4 linked regions of the Homo sapiens genome follow. The protein of the gene in region 2 interacts with the protein of the main gene of each other region in a pairwise test. Each region holds a gene or a part of one and is shown on either strand. Other genes may lie near its edges.

Region 1 (5,044 bases), on a different chromosome or scaffold from region 2:
TCCCTGCAGTAATCTCAAGACAAGGGGTGGGAGGTGGGAGAAGAACCATTCCAGAGGGCTCTCTCCCCATACGTGTTCCTGAATTCTCCTGAGTCTGGTCACTGCCTGAGTCAGGTCTGGCCTGTCCAGCTCTGGAAGAGGCAGGCTGTGAGGCCCCTGACCTCACAAAGGACTGTCATGAACTCCGTCATCCCCGCAGTCCCCCCACCCTGCAGATAAGATGACTGACACAAAGATGGGGGATCTGCTCCTCGTCCTTCCACTTTTACTCATCAATGCCTTCATCACCATTATACTTGTTTACTGAGCACTTCCTAGATGCCAGGTTCTGTGCTCAGCACTTCATTTCCATTGCCTTATTTAATCTTTACAAAGACCCCAAGATACCTCATGGCACTACTATTTTTCTGATTTTGTAGGAGAGCAAATTAGATTTTAGAAAAGTTAAGTCACTAGCTCAAGGTTACTGGCTCCAGTTGCCGCCCTTCTATCATCATCCTTTTCTAATGTTTTTGGGCCAGAGGGGACACTATTCCCTTCCCAGGCCTTCCCAAGAGTGTCCAAGCCCCCAGATACGCACACATCCCAGGACAGGCTGCTCCCAGGTTGCCTGAGCCCCTGACCCTTTTGTTTCCCACTCTATCCCTCCAAATGGCCGCTTTCTGGAGCTGCTTAAAGGAAGGAGAAACTGGAGGGAAGGGGGGCAAGGGGGACAGTATCTCACTGGGCCTAATCTCTGGACAATGAAGAACTAGAGAACTGACCTTCTAGAAGTCAGGACAAAGGGCAGGGCCAGGGTGGGCAGGGCACAGCTGCCCCTCCTCCTCCCCCGCAACCCAAGTCCCTGCAGCAGCACCACCATCATCCATCCACCTTCCCAGCAAGCTCCCCACTCTGCCCCGGGCTGGGCCTGGCTTGGCTTGAAGCCCTCACCTCAGCTGGCACCAACAAGGGGGCTGGGAGTCCATTCTGGAGGGCTGGGAAGCAGGGCTACTTTGGGGAGTGGATTCTGGAGGGGGTCACCACCCCCTCATCGACAGACCACTGGGAGAAAATCCTTCTGGGGTGATTGGCGGGGTCGTCTGGTGGGGGTGGGGGAGGTCCAGGGCTAGGACCACCCAGTTTGGAGCCGGGAGGGACCCAGCAGATTAGAGACCTGGGTAAGGCAGCTGCGCAGGGCTGTAATTACCCCCAGAGGAGCAGGGAAGACACAAGCGCAGAATGCCGGAGCAAGGGCGGCAGCAAGGCTCCCAGACCTGTCCCCAGCCCAGCCATCAGCAGGGGAGAGAAAGCGAAACCCTTTCAGGGGTCTCCTTGTGACTCTCCTTCATGCCTCCCGACGTCCCCCGGGCCGCTTTGGTTTAGGTGGGTTTGAGCGAGAATTTGGACTCGAAGCTGCCCTCTCAGCCCCAGTGCCAGAGCCCCCAAACTCCAGGGTGGGAAAGGGGAGTCCCAGCCCTGCTCCCCCTCTCCCCCAGTCCCCGCGGCGGGTGAGTCACCCGAGCGCTCCCTACTTAGTCCTCAGGCGCTGCGGCGCGTACCAAGACGCGGACGCAGGGGGAGGCAGCTAGCGCGGCGAACTCCTGGAGCCGTGGAGCCCGCTCGGCCGTGGCCGTGGGAGAGGCGCCGGGAGGCTGCGGGCGCGGGGCTCCGGGGCGGGGGCGGCGCGAACGGCGCGGACGGCGCGGGCGCGGGGGGCTGGGTCCCGGGGCGCTGCTGGGGTGGACCCCCCCGCCTCGAACTTGGTACGCGCCAGCGAGAGGCCAGGCCCAGCCCGGGCGGTACAATAGGGTTGGGCCGAGGCCGGGACTGGGCCGGCGCCGGGCGGGGAACGGGTTCGCGACCGCAGCCGAGAGACCCCGGGCGACCGGCACCTCCGAGACTCGCGGGCCACCTGCCTCGACCTTCCCCGGAGCGCCCCCGCCTCCGAGTCGCTACTTGCCGGGCCGGGCCGGGCCGGGCGTGATGCGCCGCGGGACCCCTGTCCTGGCCACTGGCCGCCGCCGCCGCCGCCGCTGAGACCCCGAGACCCCCAGTGACGCCGCAGCCATGGAGAGCGGCCCGCGTGCGGAGCTGGGGGCGGGCGCACCCCCAGGTATGCCGGGAGCCACGCGGAGGCGAGATGGGGGTAGATGGAGGGGCTGCAGGGCGGCCGAGGATGAGGCCGGCCGGCTGGGCGGGGACCCCTCCGCTGCCGCGCCCTCTGACCACTTGGAAGTTTAAAAATAAAGGCTGCGGCGGCGGCGGCTCCAGGCTCGCGATGCATCCTCTGACAGCTGCCCCCTCCCCCACCCCGGGTGCCGGACGCATCGGGCGTCGGGAGCCGCAGGGACCCCGCGCGGGAGTTGTTGGGGTGACCCTTCTGCCCCAGCTTAGTGCCATCTCAGCTTCCCCGCCCCCACGTCCCTTCCCGATTCACCCCGGGCCTTGAAGATCCTCTTCTACTGAGCTAGGGCTTCCGTCCCCTTCCCCATCCCCCGTGGCACATGTGACCCCAGCCTGAGTGTGTCGGGGGTCCATATTCTCAGGCCTGGGCCCTGCATACCGACGCCTCGGCCTTAGTGCCCGTACCCTCAGGCCCTGGCCCAGACCTCGCCCCCACCCCATCCGTCCAGCTGCCGCGCAAAGGGCCTGTTGCTGCTGCGGGCCGGCGGGGAGGGGAAAGGAGGGAGGGGAGGAGAGAGGGAGGTCTCTAGCCGCTGCTGCCAAGTAACCCGCCGGATAAAGGCGAGGGGGAGGGGGAGGCGGCATTGTTTGGGGTGAGGGCGGGAGCTGGGGAGTGGGCCGCCTCCCCTGCAGCCAGGCCTACTCTGGAGCCCACCCAGCCTGATTCGGGGAGGAGGGGGACAGAAGTAAATCTGCTTCTCCTGCCTGCCCTCCTTCCCAGCCTCTCTGGGCCCCAATCTCCCACTAGAGAATGAGGTAAAGGCTCCAAGCCGGCACTCCCTGGACCTGCCACATCATTCCCCAGCCTGAGGCTTTGATACCTCCCCCCTTACTCTCTTTTTTTCTCTCTTTCTGCCCACACCTTAGACCACCAAAGCTCCCCTCCCCTCCCTCACCCCACCAACCACCAGTGCTCAGGACTTCTGCAAATCCCATTCGGATCTGGGAGCAGCTGATGAGGGGGTGGGGACAGGTTTCTGGTTGGGCTTGGTTTTGGAGGGAGGCGATTTCTCTTTCTTCCTGGAAGGGGAGGGAAGAACATGATTATTGAAGACCCAAGTTCTGTTCCCATTGACTCAGGGGGGAGGTGGCCCCATCCCCACACCCCCATGGAGTCCTGAGCCTAATCCTGTCACCTCCCTGCCCCTTGGGGTGTGGGCACAGGATGAAACAGTTCGTGTGGGTGCGGAGAGCCCAGGATAAGGTGGGGCCAATGGGCTGTGGGTGGGCTCCTCCCCATGCCAGCGAGGATGCTTCTAGGGGACTGTCTGGGTGTGGGACCTGGGAGAACAGGGAGGGGAGGCTACCATCAGACTGGTGGGTTTCAGGAGGCTTGTAGGCTGGGCTGGAAACAAGGGTGGCTGGGTCTGTCCTGGTTTGGCTGAACCTGAGAGGGGACACCCAGGGAGGCCCAGCCTGAGTCCAACCTCAGCTTACTGGCCCTCTGCACCTGAGGGCCTCTGGCACTGGATAGTTGGGGGCCTGAATGGGGGTGGTGACTGGGATACAGAGCCTGAGCTGGTGGCTAGTTTATAATTAGGATACTTGGGTAGGATGCCTAGACTGAATATGAGAGCATGGGTGAGATGCTTGGCTCTCCTAGGGGCAGGGGGGATGTTCGGTGGGCGGGGAGGGCTGCGTCAGGGGCCGGTGGGCAGACTGCATATAGGCTTCTTGCATTGAGAGGACTCTTCTATACACAGGGATCTAGATGGAGTCACATGAGAACCTGGATCAGGATGGTGGCAGTTCCCCACACAGAATAGTCAAAGGTGACAGGAGTCCTCTGTGGGGCTTTCTGGGAGTAAATGTGCTCACAGCATGTGCCCTGTGATAGTCTGAGGCATGGGCCTGACACTCCGAGAGCATGTGACACGAACCCTGCTCCCTCTGAGTTCCTTTTTGCACTTGGACACTGAGCAGTAACAGGGGGTGGTGTGGAGTAGAGGACAAGTGTGGGGACCACTTTCAGGTCAGAAAACCTGGATGGAAATCCCAGTTAGCCATGTACTGGCTACTGGACTGGAGCAAGTGACTTACCTCCTGGAGCCACAGTTTCTGCCCCTGGAAAATAGGGGCAGTGTTGTCAACCTTGTGGGGTTAATGTGAGGGTTAGAGATGATTTAACTCAAGGAATCTGGCACGCAGACACCAGACACCTGCAATAAAGTGTTATTACCATTATTGTGGTTATGCTTCTGCAACCGGTGCCAGCAGGGAGGTATGAAATATAGGGGAGGGTGGGAGCAGGAATTGGAAGTCGATTTGTTTAAGAGTGTAGATTTTGGAATTAAACAGTTTAAGTCTCCACTTCGTAACTTACCTCTGTGTGACCTCAGTAAGTTGCTTAACCTAAGTCTTAAGTTTGCTCATCTGTAAAATGAGAATAATGCTAGAAATTATCTCATAGAGACATTGGCATCCTTAAATTAGATGAAAACAGAAAACACTTAGACTAGGCCCTGGCACATAGCCAGTGCCCAATAAGTGCTAGCCATTTGTTATTTATTTATTTATTTATTTATTTATTTATTTATTTTGAGACAGAGTCTTGCTCTTGTCACCCAGGCTGGAGTGCAATGCCACGATCTCGGCACACTGCAACCTCCGCCTCCCAGGTTCAAGCGATTCTCTTGCCTCAGCCTCCCGAGTAGCTGGGATTACAGGCGCCTGCCACCGCGCCCGGCTAATTTTTGTATTTTTAGTAGAGACAGGGTTTTGCCACATTGGCCGGGCTGGTCTCGAACTCCTGACCTCGTGATCTTCCCACCTTGGCCTCCCAAAGCGCTGGGATTACAGGCGTGAGCCACCACCCCCAGCCTAGCTATTTGTTTTTTGTCATTATTTTTAATTCCGTCAGAAGCCTGAGATGTGATTG
Region 2 (4,554 bases):
TGGAGCTATTCAAAATCAAATTTTCAAACAATATGTAAAGATTTGGGGAAATTACACTAGGATATTAAATAAAAATGCAGAATTTTTACTTTCCTCTTGTTTTCAAATCTTATACAATCAGCATTTTTATAAACAAACAAAAAAAGTTTTAATAGACCAAAAAAATGAGATTCCATCCTAAGTGTGTGATGAAAGGAAACTAGTTAATTTTGATAAAAGCGTGATAGCCAACAGCTCTCATCTGTTGAGTGCTTACAGGGAATCATGCACTGTTCTAGGTGCTTTATACTTTTACCAACACATTTAATTCTTGCACTAGTCCTTATGATAGTGTCATCCCTATTTCACAGAAGACAACTGAGGCACAAGAAGAGAAAGACAGTCACATAGCTGGTAAGTAAAGAAATCGAATCACACAAAAGCAGTCAGACTCCAAAGTCCATCCGCTTCATCATCATCATCATACCACACCACCTCACCATCAGGCCACAAGATGAATACTACACAATCGTGGAAAACAATGTTCTAAAAGAATATTTCATTTCAAGGAAAAGTATTCACAACATAGTAAGTGACTACAAAATCAAATTGAAATCAATAGACAGGATAGGTGTGTGTGAGAGAGAGGAAGAATAAATTTACCTAAACATGTCAGAAAGAATTTACTTAAACATTTGTCAGAATTTACTTAAACATTTGTCAGAAAGAGAAAGAAACCTCGCAGAGTTTCAAAGAAACCTCAGGAATGCGGTCATAAAGTTGGCCTTGCTTGATTTTTCCAGTTTTCCAAGTTCTTCATGACCTCCAGAGCTCTGTACTTCCTTGATAACCAAGTCCCTCCCTTGGCCACAACACTACTAGGTGCAGGATTTGAGGGAGGTCTGCAGAGCTGGGCGTGCCCCTGGTCAGAGGCCTTCTCCCAATCACTATACTGCTGGCAGCAAGAATCAAGGGCAGCCCAACAGCTCACAGCCTACTAACGAAAAAACCCCTCTCATCACTGTCTCCCCACTAAAAGCCACCCAAGAGACCAGTCCCAAGAAAGACACTTTCCCAAAAACATCATTGAGACAATTCCATCAGATGCCCTCTTCACCAGTCACTACCAGACACCCTCCTAAACCTTTCCATCATGGCCTCTGAAATTCATGGTTGGCCAGGCACAGTGGCTCATGCCTGTAATCCCTGCACTTTGGGAGGCCAAGGTGGGCAGATAACCTGAGGTCAGGAGGTCGAGACCAGTCTGGCCAACATGGCGAAACCCTGTCTCTACTGAAAATACAACAATTATCCAGCCATGGTGGCAAATGCCTGTAATCCCAGCTACTCGGGAGGCTGAGGCAGGAGAATCGCTTGAACCTGGGAGGCAGAGGTTGCAGTGAGCCGAGATCGAGCCACTGCACTATAGCCTGGGCGACAGAGCAAGACTCCGTCTCAAACAAATAAATAAATAGTGGAAAGCTGCGCCTGATCTAATGCAAGGCTAACTCTTATACTGAAATCCTTTTCCCTTTCAAGTTTTTCAGGACTTTCCTCCTGGAAATGTCCCCTTTCTCTCCTGCAACCACCATTTCTCCCTCTCACGTCGCCTCTCGTCAGTGTAAATAAATATAACTATCTCCTATCTTTAAAAAGTCCTCCCTACATCCACATGCCCCTCATTTATCACATAAGAAATCAGGAGAAAAGTTTTATTTAACAACTGTAAAAGAGTAAAACTTGATTATTTTTAATTAATTCTTACCGAGTTAAATAATATCAACCTTACCATACTTGGGGGCACATTTAAAGTACTGGACTTTTCCAACACTTCCATTATTTTTTCCTTCTGGTTCATCCAGTTCAATGCCAGCCCACTGCCCACTTGCAAATTCAGTTGTTCCACAAAATCTTAATGTACCAACCTAAAGAAAATATAAACCAGAATAATTTTGGGGAATTATTAGTAATTCCAAGGGTCCTACTCTTGCAACTTTACTTCACCATGGGAGTTTTTAAAAATTCACTCTCTCAAAGTGAATTTTAAAAATTCGCTCTCTCAACATTACCTTTTTATGCTTGGTAATGTTCCTTGCTCTCACTTCAGAGCCAGGAACATTACCAAGGATGAAAAAGAACATTAAATAATAATAAGGGAGTCAATTTCCAAGAAGACATAAGAATCCTAATTAGCTGGATAGTAGCACACACCTGTAGTTCCAGCTACTACAGGGGCTGAGGCAGGAGGGTTGCTTGAGCCCAGGAGTTCGGGGCTACAGTGACCTATGACTGTGCCACTGCACTCCAGCCTAGGCATCAAAGTGAGACTCTTCTCAAAAAAAAAAAAAAAAAAAAAAAGGGATATAACTATGTTGGGAAACTCAATATCCAAGCAGGAATTCCCTGTTCCATTCTCCATACCAAGCTCCCTATTAACCTCAATATTAAGAAAAAACTGAAGGGACAGGGCTAGGGGAGGGATAGCATTAGGAGAAATACCTAATGTAGATGACGGGTTGATGGGTGCAGCAAATCACCATGGCACACGTATGCCTACGTAACAAACCTGCATGTTCTGTGCATGTATTCCAGAACTTAAAGTATAATAAAATAATTAAAAAAAGAAAAAACAAGAAAACCTCCCATATGAGATATTTTTAAAAAGCAACTGGCAATAAATGAATACAATATGGAAACAAAAGCTTGGGAGGAAAAAAGGTGTCTGGATGATGGGAGTAGGAGTCCTCTTTTCCACACAAATCCTTATCACCAGGTTACATAATATCTCAGACTGCCCTATTTGTGGGAACCCAAAGACAAACACCCATGAACAGCAAGGGTCTCCTGTGCTCCATTTCTATGGAGGAGCAGCAGTCAGAGAAGTACCACTGGGGAAAGAGGGGACTGCAAAGATAATCCTCCACCTTAGATCATCCCTTAGCTCATGCTTCTAAATTCACTCAAGAGTTCTACTCCACTCCACTCTTTATTCAAATAAAGATGTCTTCTTTATTAAGTTCAAGTAGTTTATATTCTTAAAGCATAACTTAACAGTAAATTCATATCTAAGTTTTACATTTTCCATTAAGCATCTTTCTACCTACATGTTGAACCTTTTTCAAAAACTCAAAACTCTGACCATACTGTGTCCTTGAACATAGGTCATGGACATAACAACCCTGGCTTCAGAGATTGCAGTTACTTACTGTACCTTCTGTCCTGCAATAACAACACGATCCCCCAACTTCAGGCCAAGTGACGTAAGCATTGCCTTGCCAGTGACATGATCATAATTTGGGAGCATGGCCTTTGAGATGTTACATGACAGAGGCACCGCATCTAGAAGCATCTGCTTGATTTCCTTAGCAGTGGCTGCGGCGTCAGCCATCTCTAACGGCATATCTACTGGGTCTGGAACAACATCAGCAGGGATCTGTCCTTTGTCATTCTACAAATAAAGATAAGAGAAAAATGTTCAACTCTTACTTAGAGCACTAGAAAGTCATATAAAATTTCTGTTGGAAGAACTTTACGTTAAATTCATTCATCATTTGTTTATTCAAAAACATTTCCTGAACGCCTACAATATGCAGACACCATTCTAGGTGCTAAAGATCCTACAGTGAAAAAAACACAAGCCCTGCCCTCAAGGAACATTACATTCTGGTGGGAGAGATAGACCATACAACATTAAACAAGTAAATTATATGTGGCATAATAAACAGTCATAAGTGGCCTGGAGGGAAAAAAAAAAAACAGGGAAGGGGAATAGGAAATGTGGAGACAGAGATGGTTGTAGGGGAAACTCTTTAGATTAAGTGGTCAGGGAGGCCTCACTGATGAGATGCATCTCCACAGAGATCCAAAGCAGACCAGGGAGGAGCTGTGCAGGTTCTCTGGCAGGGAAAAGCAAGGCGTCCATGTGGGGAGCGGTGCTCAGGTCCTAAACGGAGAGCATTCTGCCCGCAGAGGCATGAGAAAGCAAGCTTGGAAACAAAAGTCACAGGACTGACGCTTCCCAGCCCCAGATCCATGGTTCCAGAGCTGCCCTCTTGGCTCTGTGACCTCAGCCCCCTGCCCATTCATGGGGTAACTCAGATTTCAAAACTAGAAACTATGGTTTTGATACTACTAAAACCTGGGCTATAATCAAGAAAAAAGCTCTGTTTTCACTATGACAGAAAGACTGTATCCTGGGATTTGTCCTGTGACAAGATAAAATGGCCAATGACAACCCCACGGTCATTTGCATGGTATATGTATCATAAAAGCCCTATCATATGAATTATCTGTCATCTTACATTCCCTAACCAAAAACCTTAGACTTCATGAGAAATAATTTAGATTGTAATCTTCTTTTAATATAAAGAATAAAGATACTTTTGTTAACTGAGAAACTTTTTTCCCTTTCTTCACTGATACAATCTTCTTCAAATGATTCACATGGAAAAATGAACGAGGCTTTTAGAACACACTTAGTTTGCAATTGCTTCGCATTTTTTTGTTTTAAAATTCAAGTCAGGTTGGTCCTTAGTAGAAATATGGCAAGAAGATATGTTATTAGATGTCTAGGAT
Region 3 (4,982 bases), on a different chromosome or scaffold from region 2:
CCACAGAAGCCAAGGGGCCAGGGTCCCGAGCCAGGCAGGGGGCAGCCACCAGCTGGGTACTCACACTTCCTCGTCAGACATGGTGAAGGTGGGTGGTTTCTGCAGAGAGAGATTCAGAGAGAGAGAGAGAGAGAGGATGGAAAGAGAGTTACGAGCTGCCTGGGTGTAGGATGGGGGATGGGGTCTTGGAGCAGCGCTGTGGGGGACCGCGGGCAGGGTTTGGGGGCCAGCTCTGGCCTTGGGTGAGTCCACCTCCTTGGGCCTCCCCTTTCTCCAGGGCTCCTGGCCCCTCCCAGCTCTTGGCGCCCCAGACTCTGTCCCCTCTTCCTGCCCTGGCTCCAGACTGGAGCTTGGAATCTTGGAGCTGGAAGGGATGTTGGAAGGTCGTGGCGTCCACCCCCACCCAGGGCAGACATCCTCTCCGTGGCGTCCCCTGAGGAGGGTCATCCAGAATGCAGGCCGTGTGCCGTCCAGCCCGCTCTAGACACTGGAAAGGTCCCGCTGATGGAGCTGAAACCTGTCTCTGGGTGTTCTCTGCCCAGTGGGTGTAGGTGGGGTCTCCCTGGGAGCCCCTGGATGACCGAGACTGGCTCCCCAAGATGAGTAATCTGCTCACCCTACCATTCCCCATGAGAACCCCTCTTCCCTATTTGAGCCCAAAGCTCCCTTCTGTGCCTGTTTTCCTATGGGGTGCCCAGAGTGTGTCCCACCACACCCCTCTGAGGACCCCTCCTCCAAGATCACAGAGCAGGGAAGCTGTTCCTTCTTGTTACCCCTGTACCCTGAAAACATTGAGGCTGAGCCCCAGAGCACGTTGGGTTGGGTCTGGGCCGCTTCCCGTGCACCCCCCCGGGCCGGGCTCTGTACAAGGCATACTTGGACTGCAGGAGCCCACAGAACAGCCCCCCCATTTCCCTCCCTGTGGCCGCTTTCCCTGGTCCCGGGGATGCTCTGGATCTGTCCCTGTCTAGGGGAAGCTCCATGCCCAGGACTGGCTGCCCTGTCCATGTGCGGTGGTGGCGCCAGGCCAGCATGCTGGGGACCGTCTCTCTGTGAGCTGGCCACCGTGCACACTGGGCGGCCAGGCCTGGGGAGGCTCTGAGCAGCTGCACCGGCATGTTGGCCAGGGTTTTAGAAAACAAAGTTCATTACAACACAGTACAGATTACTCGAAGACAATAGCTACGGTCCCCCCTGGGAGTGTTGTATAAGGAAAACACACGTTCATCAGCTAAAAATGCATCTACGTTGCACTGCTGAGGTGGGAACCGTTTTCCAAACCCTCTGTCAAGAATGTTAATTTTCCCAGAGCAACTTAAGCTCCATGCAAAATTACCCAGCAGATAGCTGTCTTCCAGGCAACGGGGGTAGCTTTTTCCTATCCCAGAATCTCTTCCTGAGACTCTGCTGCCCCTCAGGTTAAGCCTCTTGTAACTGCCACGGCTGGGCCAGGCTCTCCTCAGTCCTCAGCCCCACGAGCCAGTGTTGTCCAGGCCCCCGGTGTGACCCAGTCCCAGGCTGCCCACCAGCCCCTCGTGCTGTCCTCCCAGCTGGTTCAGGCCCCAAACGCCACAGACTCCTCTAGGGCCATCCTCTGTAAGGAGGAGGAGGGTCAGTGAAGGGAGGGAGCGGAGCCTGGCCCCGCCCTGCTGTGCCCAGCCCGACGCTGGCGGGGCAGACACCTGTCGGCTGCCACAAGATGGGGGCAGCGTGGCCCTCGCCTGGGGTGGGTTATTTATAAGGAGCCAGTGGCAGCTGAGGTGTCCAGAAATAGGCAAGACGTTTCTGCCCAGAAACCCAAGACGTGGGTGAGGCGGGTGTGACAGCCCAGCCCTCCTTGGCCCACAGCTGCCCCCTCACCCTCGGGCACCCAGGCCCTCCCCAGCTCCTCATATTTCCCTCCTGTCCCCCCAGGCCAGAGTCACATGGGTGCCCCAACACCCTCAGGCAGGGTGACCTCCAGGCCCCCCGACGTGCGCTGGAAAGGCCCACTCTCCAAGTGGGGAAACTGAGGCACCTGGTTTTCTGCTGAGCGCCTGGAAGCAACACAAGGCTGTTCTGTTCCCCCCAGTATGGCCTGTGTCATTGCCTCTGTTGCGGGGAGGGGCTGGTGGCAGGGGTGTGCTGGGGGCAGGGGTGTGCTGGGGGCAGGGGATGGCATTTCAACAGCTGAGACGCAAAGCAGGTGTCCAGTTAGTGCCTGCCTTGGAGGGGCTGCGTGAAAATAACCTATGCGGTCAGTTTCTTCGGGCACGTATGCATCACCTTTCCCTCCTTGGGAGGTGACGGGGCCAGGGCAGGGTGGGGAGGCAAAAGCCGCTGCCCCTTGCTTGCTGTGGCCCTGACCATGCCCCCAGACCTGTTCTCCACCCAGCCAACCTTTGCTTTGCCCCATGTCCCTCCGTGGACTTCAGGAGGGGCAGCCAAGGCCTGATCAGACGGCACAAGTCAGGGGGACCGTGTCCAGGGCAGGGAGGGTGGGTGGGGGCTCTTACGAGCGCCAGCTTCTCCAGCCTCCAGCCAGGGGGACGCGATGAAGCCCAGCCCCTCACTCTTGCCCCGTCCTGCCCCAGTCCAGCCCCTGTCCACTTCTGTCCTGCACCTCCAGACGCTGGCCCCCAAGGCTGCGTGGGCTTTAGACGCCCCCACCCCAACACACTCGGGCTGGCCATACAGGAGCCCCTGCCCTCCTGTCCTCGTTTTCATCTCTACAAAATGGCGGTGTTGGAGGCCCAGGTGCGAGAGCTGCATGGCAAGGCCAGGACGGGCCTGGGCAAATGTCTGCATGGCGACCACAAGCTGGCAACCTAAGCCCTGGCAGCACCCCTGCACAGCCTCTTCCCTGCCGCTCACAGCCCGCACCTCTCTGCCTCCTGCCCTCAGGCCACTCCCTAGCACTGAGCTTCCCTGAGCCCCGACTTGCCCCCTCCTGGCCTCCCACACTCTGCCTTCTTCTGCATCCTCCCGGTGCTGAGACCATCACACCACCATGTCCGCATCCCAGACTCTCCGGACGCTGGAGCAGCCACCTGGGGGCTCCGAGCCATGATGCTTCGAGATGCTCGGCACCACACGGACCTGGGACCTCAGCGCCCCAGGACCCCAGAGTGTCCCTGGAACGAGGGGCTGTCCACCCGCACGCAGGAGGCCCCGTCGGCCCCAGTCCTGGGTGGCCGCTCCTGCCTATACCCACCTGCGGGTCGAGTGTGAGAAGGGCTGGAGCTCCCTGTGGACAGCACCGGCTGCAGGCACTGGCGCCCGGCTCACACCCTCGTGTTATAGTGACATTTGATCTTCCTAGGAGCCCATTGGCCAGTGACTGGGTGGCCGGGGTGTGTGCGGAGTCTTGCTGGGGGGGGCTATGCCCGTGCAGGCCCCTTACCAAGTATAGGAATGGCCAGAGGAGGAGGCTGAAGGAGGCCAGGATGCAGAGGACGTGCTTGGAGAAGGAGGCAAGGTCCTCCCTCCGCCTCCAGGAGGTGTCAGCTGCTATTTTTACTCCCAGCAGCGGGTACATTCTGGATGGGCTGAGGAGGGAGGAGGAAGGTGTTGGGTGGCCCCGGGGCACCAAGCCGAGGCTCTCTTTGGGCCAAACTAGTGTGGGGGTCCCCAGAGCCAGGCTGCCGGGTTTCCCACCCCCCCGCCCCTTCTCTCTGAGATGTTCTGTGGGAGTAAACATTTGTCCAGGAAAAGGGTCCGCACAGCCGGGGTCCCCTCCCGCCGCCCGGCCCAATGCCCCAGGCCCTTCGCTGTCTCCCCCGGGGAGGAAGCAGCCTGAGGCCTCGGAGACCCCCCATGGAACTGAGGCCAGGCCCCCACCCTATCTGAGACCCTCTTAGAGGCCAGCTCTGCTTTCCTGGCTAGACACCGTTGGGGCCTACACAATAAGCGGGCGAGGGACATGGCCAGGCTGGCTGCAGTCCGAGTCTGCCATACCTCCCCCCGGGGCTGCTGCCATTGCAGGGGGCTACACATGGAGTTTGCTGGGTAAGGGTCTGGGTCCTCCCTCTAGGCCCTTTCTAACCCTGGGGCCCCACCCTGGGCACTCGCAGTGGCCGTTACCATCTGTGCCAGCATCTCCCACAGGCTCATTGTGGCGTGTGGAGACTGGTTTTCTTTCCTCAGGACTCCAGGTGGCACCGTCCGACTAGCAGACATCCTTCCTGGCCTCTGATGGCCTGTATGCTGGCCAGTGAGGCCACCAGATTGGATAACCCTGCCTCTTGGATCAGGGAAACTGAGGCACCAGGTGGGGGAGAGCAGTCTGGCACCCTGACCCACCCCCTCACTCCCCTCAGACCCCACAGGCTGAGCGTGGGCGGTGGTGTCTGCGGAACTCTTCGGTTCAGGCACAGATTGGTTCCTTCTTGGCCAGCGCCCAGGACAGGGGTGAGTCCCGAGAGGCACAGATGAGGTCCCTGTCCTCCCCAGGCTTAGAGTCAGGGACAACAGGATAACCCGGCAGGGGCTCACAGTGCCCTGGGGCCGGGTCGGGGGCCTTCCGGAAGGCTGTGGTTGGCACCTCATTCCACCCCTCCATGGAAGAGCGAGGCCGCAGAGCCCAGGGACAGGCAAGGTGTGCCTGGGGTCACACGACAAGGCGGGCTGGCCCCAGGCTGCCATTTCAAAGGACAGGGCCGGTCCCCTGCCTGCCTCCCGCTGAGTGCCCGGCACTGGGAAGGCTCTTGGAGCTGGGGTTGCTGGGAACGTCGCCGTCCTCCTGCTCTGGGTCTGTGGCTTCGTCTGCATTCCACGCCTTCCCCTCCCTGTCCATGTCCTCGATGGGCAAGGCTTTGGGGGCCACAAACAGCCCTGGCCCCTGGATATCTGTGACCAGCTTCCTGCCCACTGGGGACATCTGCAGAACTGCTCCCTCAGAGGCACGTGAGCGGGTCCCTGGGGGTCAGCGGGCCCACCCCATCCTCTCCCATGGTGGGGCCAACCTCCTTTTCCAGGCTCGCTCTGCCGGCTTCTCTAACGGA
Region 4 (4,554 bases), on a different chromosome or scaffold from region 2:
GAAATAGATACATTCCCAGAAAAACACAACCTACCAAGAATGAACCAGAAAGAAACAGAAAATCTGAATAGACCAATAATGAGCAGCAAGAATTAATCAGTAATTTTTACAATCTCCCAACAAAGAAAAGCCCAGTACCAGATGGCTTCACAGCCGAATTCTACCAAATGTACAAAGAAGAAGTAATATCAATACTCCTGAAACTATTCCAAAAAATCAAGGACAGGCCTCTCCCTAACTTATTCTATAAGGCCATTATCGCCCTGATAACAAAACCAAAGAAGGACACAAAACAAAGGATACAGAATAAAAAGAAAACTACAGATTAATGAACACAAATGCAAAAATCCTCAACAAAATACTAGCAAACCAAATCCAACACCAAATCAAAAAGATAATACACCATGATCAAGTGGGTTTTATACCAGGAATGCAAGGATAGGTCAACATATGCAAATCAATAAATGTGATACATCATATCAACAGAATGAAGGGCAAAAACCATATGATCATCTTAATAGACGCGAAAAAAGAATTTAATAAAATTCAACATCCCTTCATAAGAAAAACCCTTAGTAAACTAGGCACAGAAAGATCATACCTCAAAATAATAAAGGCCATATATGATAAACCTGTAACTAACATCATACTGAATAGGGAAAAGATGAAAGCATTCCTTTAAGAACTGGAAGAAAACAAGGATGCCTACTTTCACCACTCTTCAATATAGTATTGGAAGTCCTAACCAGAGCAATCAGGCAAGAGAATGAAACAAAAGGCATCAAAATTATAAAGGAAGGAGTCAAATTATCCCTGTTTCCTGATGATATGATCTTATATCTAGAAAAACCTAAAGACTCCCCACAAAAACTCTTAGATTTGCCAGGCGCGGTAGCTCATGCCTGTAATCCCAGCACTTTGGGAGGCTGAGGTGGCCAGATCACCTGAGGTCAGTAGTTCAAGACCAGCTGGCCAACATGGTGAAACCCTGTCTCTACTAAAACTACAAAAATTAGCCGGGTGTGGTGGCACATGCCTGTAATCCCAGCTACTCGGGAGGCTGAGGCAGGAGAATCACTTGAACCCGGGAGGCAGAGCTTGCAGTGAGCTGAGATTGTGCCATTGCACTCCAGCCTGGGCAACAGAATGAAATTCTGTCTCAAAAAAAAAAAAAAAAAAACCCTTAGATTTGGTAAATGAATTCAGTAAACTTGCAAGATACAAAATCAACATACAAAAATTAGTAGTGTTTCTACACACCAATAATGATTCAAAATGAAAACCAAATCAAGAACACAATCCCATTTACAATAGCTACAAATAACAAAAAAAAAAAGGCCGGGTGTGGTGGCTCACGCCTGTAATCCCAGCACTTTGGGAGGCCAAGGTGGGTGGATCACAAGGTCAAGAGATCGAGACCATCCTGGCCAACATGGTGAAACCCTGTCTCTACTAAAAATACACACACACACAAAAATTAGCTGGGCATAGTGGTGCGCACTTGTAGTCCCAGCTACTCTGGAGGCTCAGGCAGGAGAAGTGCTTGAACCTGGGAGCCGGAGGTTGTAGTAAGCCGAGATTGTGCCACTGCACTCCAGCCTGGGTGACAGAGTGAGACTCCGTCTCAAAAAAGAAAAAAAGAAAAAAGAAATTATAAACACACACATACACACACACACAAACTAGGAATATATTTAACCAGAGGTAAAATCCCTACAAGGAGAACTACAAAACACAGCTAAAAGAAATTATACATGACACAAATGGAAAAACATCCCATGATCACTGGATATTCAGAAGAATATCATTAAAATGACCATACTGTACAAAGCAGCCTACATATTCTATACAATCCCTATCAAAATACCAAGTTAATTTTTTGCAAAATTAGAAAAAACAATCCTAAAATTCATATGGAACCAAAAAGAAGCCCCAATAGCCAAAGCAATGCTGAGCAAAAAGAATAAAGCTAGAGGCATCACATTATCTAACTTCAAATTATATTACAAGACTATACTAACCAGAACAGCAGGTTACTGGTATAAAAATAAGACACACAGGTCAATGGAACAGCATAGAGAACCCAGAAATAAAGCCGCATACTTGCAGCCAACTGATGTTTGACAAAGCCGACAAGAACATACACTGTGGAAACGAAACCCTCTTCAATCAATGGTGCTGAGAAAATTAGATATCCATATGCAGAAGAATGCAATTGAACTCTTATCTCTCACTAATACATAAAAATCAACTCAAGGTGGATTAAAGACTTAAGTGTAAGACCCAAAACTATAAAGATACTAGAAAACAGACAAATGGGACTCAATTAAACTAAAAAGCTTCTGCATGGCAAAAGAAATAACAGATTGAAGAGACAACCAATCCTGTTGAATGACAGAAAATATCTGCAAATTATTCATCCAACAGGGGACTAATATCCAGACTACACAAGGAACTCAAACGATTCAACAACCAAAAAAATCTAACAATCCTATTAAAAAGTAGGCAAAACACATGAATAGACATTTTTCAAAAGCATACACCCAACAGGTATATGAAAAAATGCTCAACATTACCAGTCATAAGAGAAATGCAAATCAAATTCACAATGAGATATCACCTTATCCTAGTCAGAATGTCTTTTATTAAAAAGACAGACAATGTTGGTTATCATGTGAAAAAAAGGGAACTCTTATATACCATTGGTGGGAATGTAAATTAGTACAGCCTCTATGGAAAACAGTATGGAGATTTCTCCAAGAATTAAAAATAGAACTATCTTTCCATCTAGCAATCCCACTACTAGATTTTTACAAAAAGAAAAGAAATTAATATATCTAAAAGATATGTGCACCAGTATGTTTACTGCAGCACTATTCACAACAGCAAAGATATGGAATCAACCTAAGTGTCCATCAATGGATGAACAGGTAAAGAAAATGTGGTATATATACACAATGGAATACTATTCAGCCATAACAAAGAATGAAATCAGGCTGGGCGTGGTGGCTCACCCCTGTGATCCCAGCACTTTGGGAGGCCGAGGCGGGCAGATCACAAGGTCGGGGGATCGAGGCCATCCTGGCTAACACTGTGAAACCCTGTCTCTACTGAAAATACAAAAAAAAAGTTAGTCAGGTGTGGTGGCGGGCACCTGTAGTCCCAACTACTTGGGAGGCTGAGGCAGGAGAATGGCGTGAACCTCGGAGGCGGAACTTGCAGTAAGCCGAGATCTCACCACTGCACTACAGCCTGGGCGACAGAGTGAGACTCCATCTCAAAAAAAAAATGAATGAAATCATGACATATACAGCAACGTGGATGGAACTAGAGGTCATTATCTTAGGTTAAACAAACCAGGCACACAAAGACAAGTATGATGTTCTGACTCATAAGTGTGTTCTAAACAAACGTGTTCACACAGATGCAGAGTGGAATGATACATAATGGAGTGGAAGAATGAGGAGGTGGGAGGATGATGAGAAATTCGTTAATGAGGACAAAGAACGTTATTCAGGTGATGGATACCTTAAAAGCCCTCACTTGACTGCAGCATAATCTATGCATGTAACAAAACTGCATATGTACCCATAAATTTGTACAAATAAAAAGTAAAAATAAATAAAAATATCATCTAAAATAGCATTACAAATATGAAATATTTAAGGATAAACCTAACACCAAAAAATACAAATCACTGCTGAGAGAATCAAAGAATGCTTAATACACGGAGACAAACCAGAACCACAGATGAGAAGATTCATATTGTAAACATGTCAGTTCTCCCTGAAATAATATATAGATTCAACACAAAATCCCAAGTCTTTTTGTAGAAATTGACAAGCTAGTTCTAAAATTTTTATGGAAATAGAAAGGGTTCAGAATAGCCAGGATAACTATAAATTTTTTTAAAAAAGACCAAATTTCGGCCAGGCGCGGTGGCTCACGCCTGTAATCCCAGCACTTTGGTAGGCCAAGGCGGGCAGATCACAAGGTCAGGAGATCGAGACCATCCTGGCTAACGCGGTGAAACCCCATCTCTACTAAAAAAATACAAAAAAATTAGCCGGGCGTGGTGGCGGGTGCCTGTAGTCCCAGCTACTCGGGAGGCTGAGGCAGGAGAATGGTGTGAACCCAGGAGGCGGAGCTTGTAGTGAGCCAAGATCGAGCCACTGCACTCCAGCCTGGGTGACAGAGCAAGACTCTGTCTCAAAAAAAAGACCAAGTTTAAAGTATCACACTAGCTGATTTCAATCCTCGGTATAAAGACATGAAGCTAGATCAATGGAATGTGGCTAGGAAATTGACTTAAACATTTATGGTCAATTGATTTTCAACAAAGGGAAAAAAGTAGTCTTTCCACACACTGTTAGATCAATTGCACATTAATATGCAAAGAAATGAAACTTGACTCTTACAACATATGTAAAACTTAACTCGAAATTGTTCACAGACCTAAATGTAAGAGGTAAAAAGATAAAATCTCCAGGAAAAAAAAAGTAAAAATCTTTGTTACCTTGGATTAGGTAAAGATTCTTAGATAGGACATAAAAA

Evidence for each region.
Region 1: the proteins of CLIP4 (region 2) and MAP7D1 interact in a two-hybrid assay, tested with the Homo sapiens proteins (one large-scale study listed by BioGRID and IntAct).
Region 3: the proteins of CLIP4 (region 2) and TNNT3 interact in a two-hybrid assay, tested with the Homo sapiens proteins (one large-scale study listed by BioGRID and IntAct).
Region 4: the proteins of CLIP4 (region 2) and DCAF6 interact in a two-hybrid assay, tested with the Homo sapiens proteins (one large-scale study listed by BioGRID and IntAct).

What each region holds. Positions count from the first base shown.
Region 1 is NC_000001.11:36,154,369-36,159,412, forward strand, and holds the start of MAP7D1 (MAP7 domain-containing protein 1), read left to right. Parts: upstream 1-1,791; 5' UTR 1,792-2,049; coding exon 2,050-2,095; intron 2,096-5,044. UniProt on the Homo sapiens protein: Microtubule-stabilizing protein involved in the control of cell motility and neurite outgrowth. Facilitate microtubule stabilization through the maintenance of acetylated stable microtubules.
Region 2 is NC_000002.12:29,142,582-29,147,135, reverse strand, and holds part of CLIP4 (CAP-Gly domain-containing linker protein 4), read right to left. Parts: intron 3,428-4,554; coding exon 3,191-3,427; intron 1,905-3,190; coding exon 1,769-1,904; intron 1-1,768.
Region 3 is NC_000011.10:1,917,974-1,922,955, reverse strand, and holds the start of TNNT3 (troponin T, fast skeletal muscle), read right to left. Parts: upstream 3,254-4,982; 5' UTR 3,194-3,253; intron 1,595-3,193; exon of another isoform or gene 1,337-1,594; intron 126-1,336; exon of another isoform or gene 100-125; 5' UTR 82-99; coding exon 65-81; intron 1-64. UniProt on the Homo sapiens protein: Troponin T is the tropomyosin-binding subunit of troponin, the thin filament regulatory complex which confers calcium-sensitivity to striated muscle actomyosin ATPase activity.
Region 4 is NC_000001.11:167,942,582-167,947,135, reverse strand, and holds part of DCAF6 (DDB1- and CUL4-associated factor 6), read right to left. Parts: intron 1-4,554. UniProt on the Homo sapiens protein: Ligand-dependent coactivator of nuclear receptors. Enhance transcriptional activity of the nuclear receptors NR3C1 and AR. May function as a substrate receptor for CUL4-DDB1 E3 ubiquitin-protein ligase complex.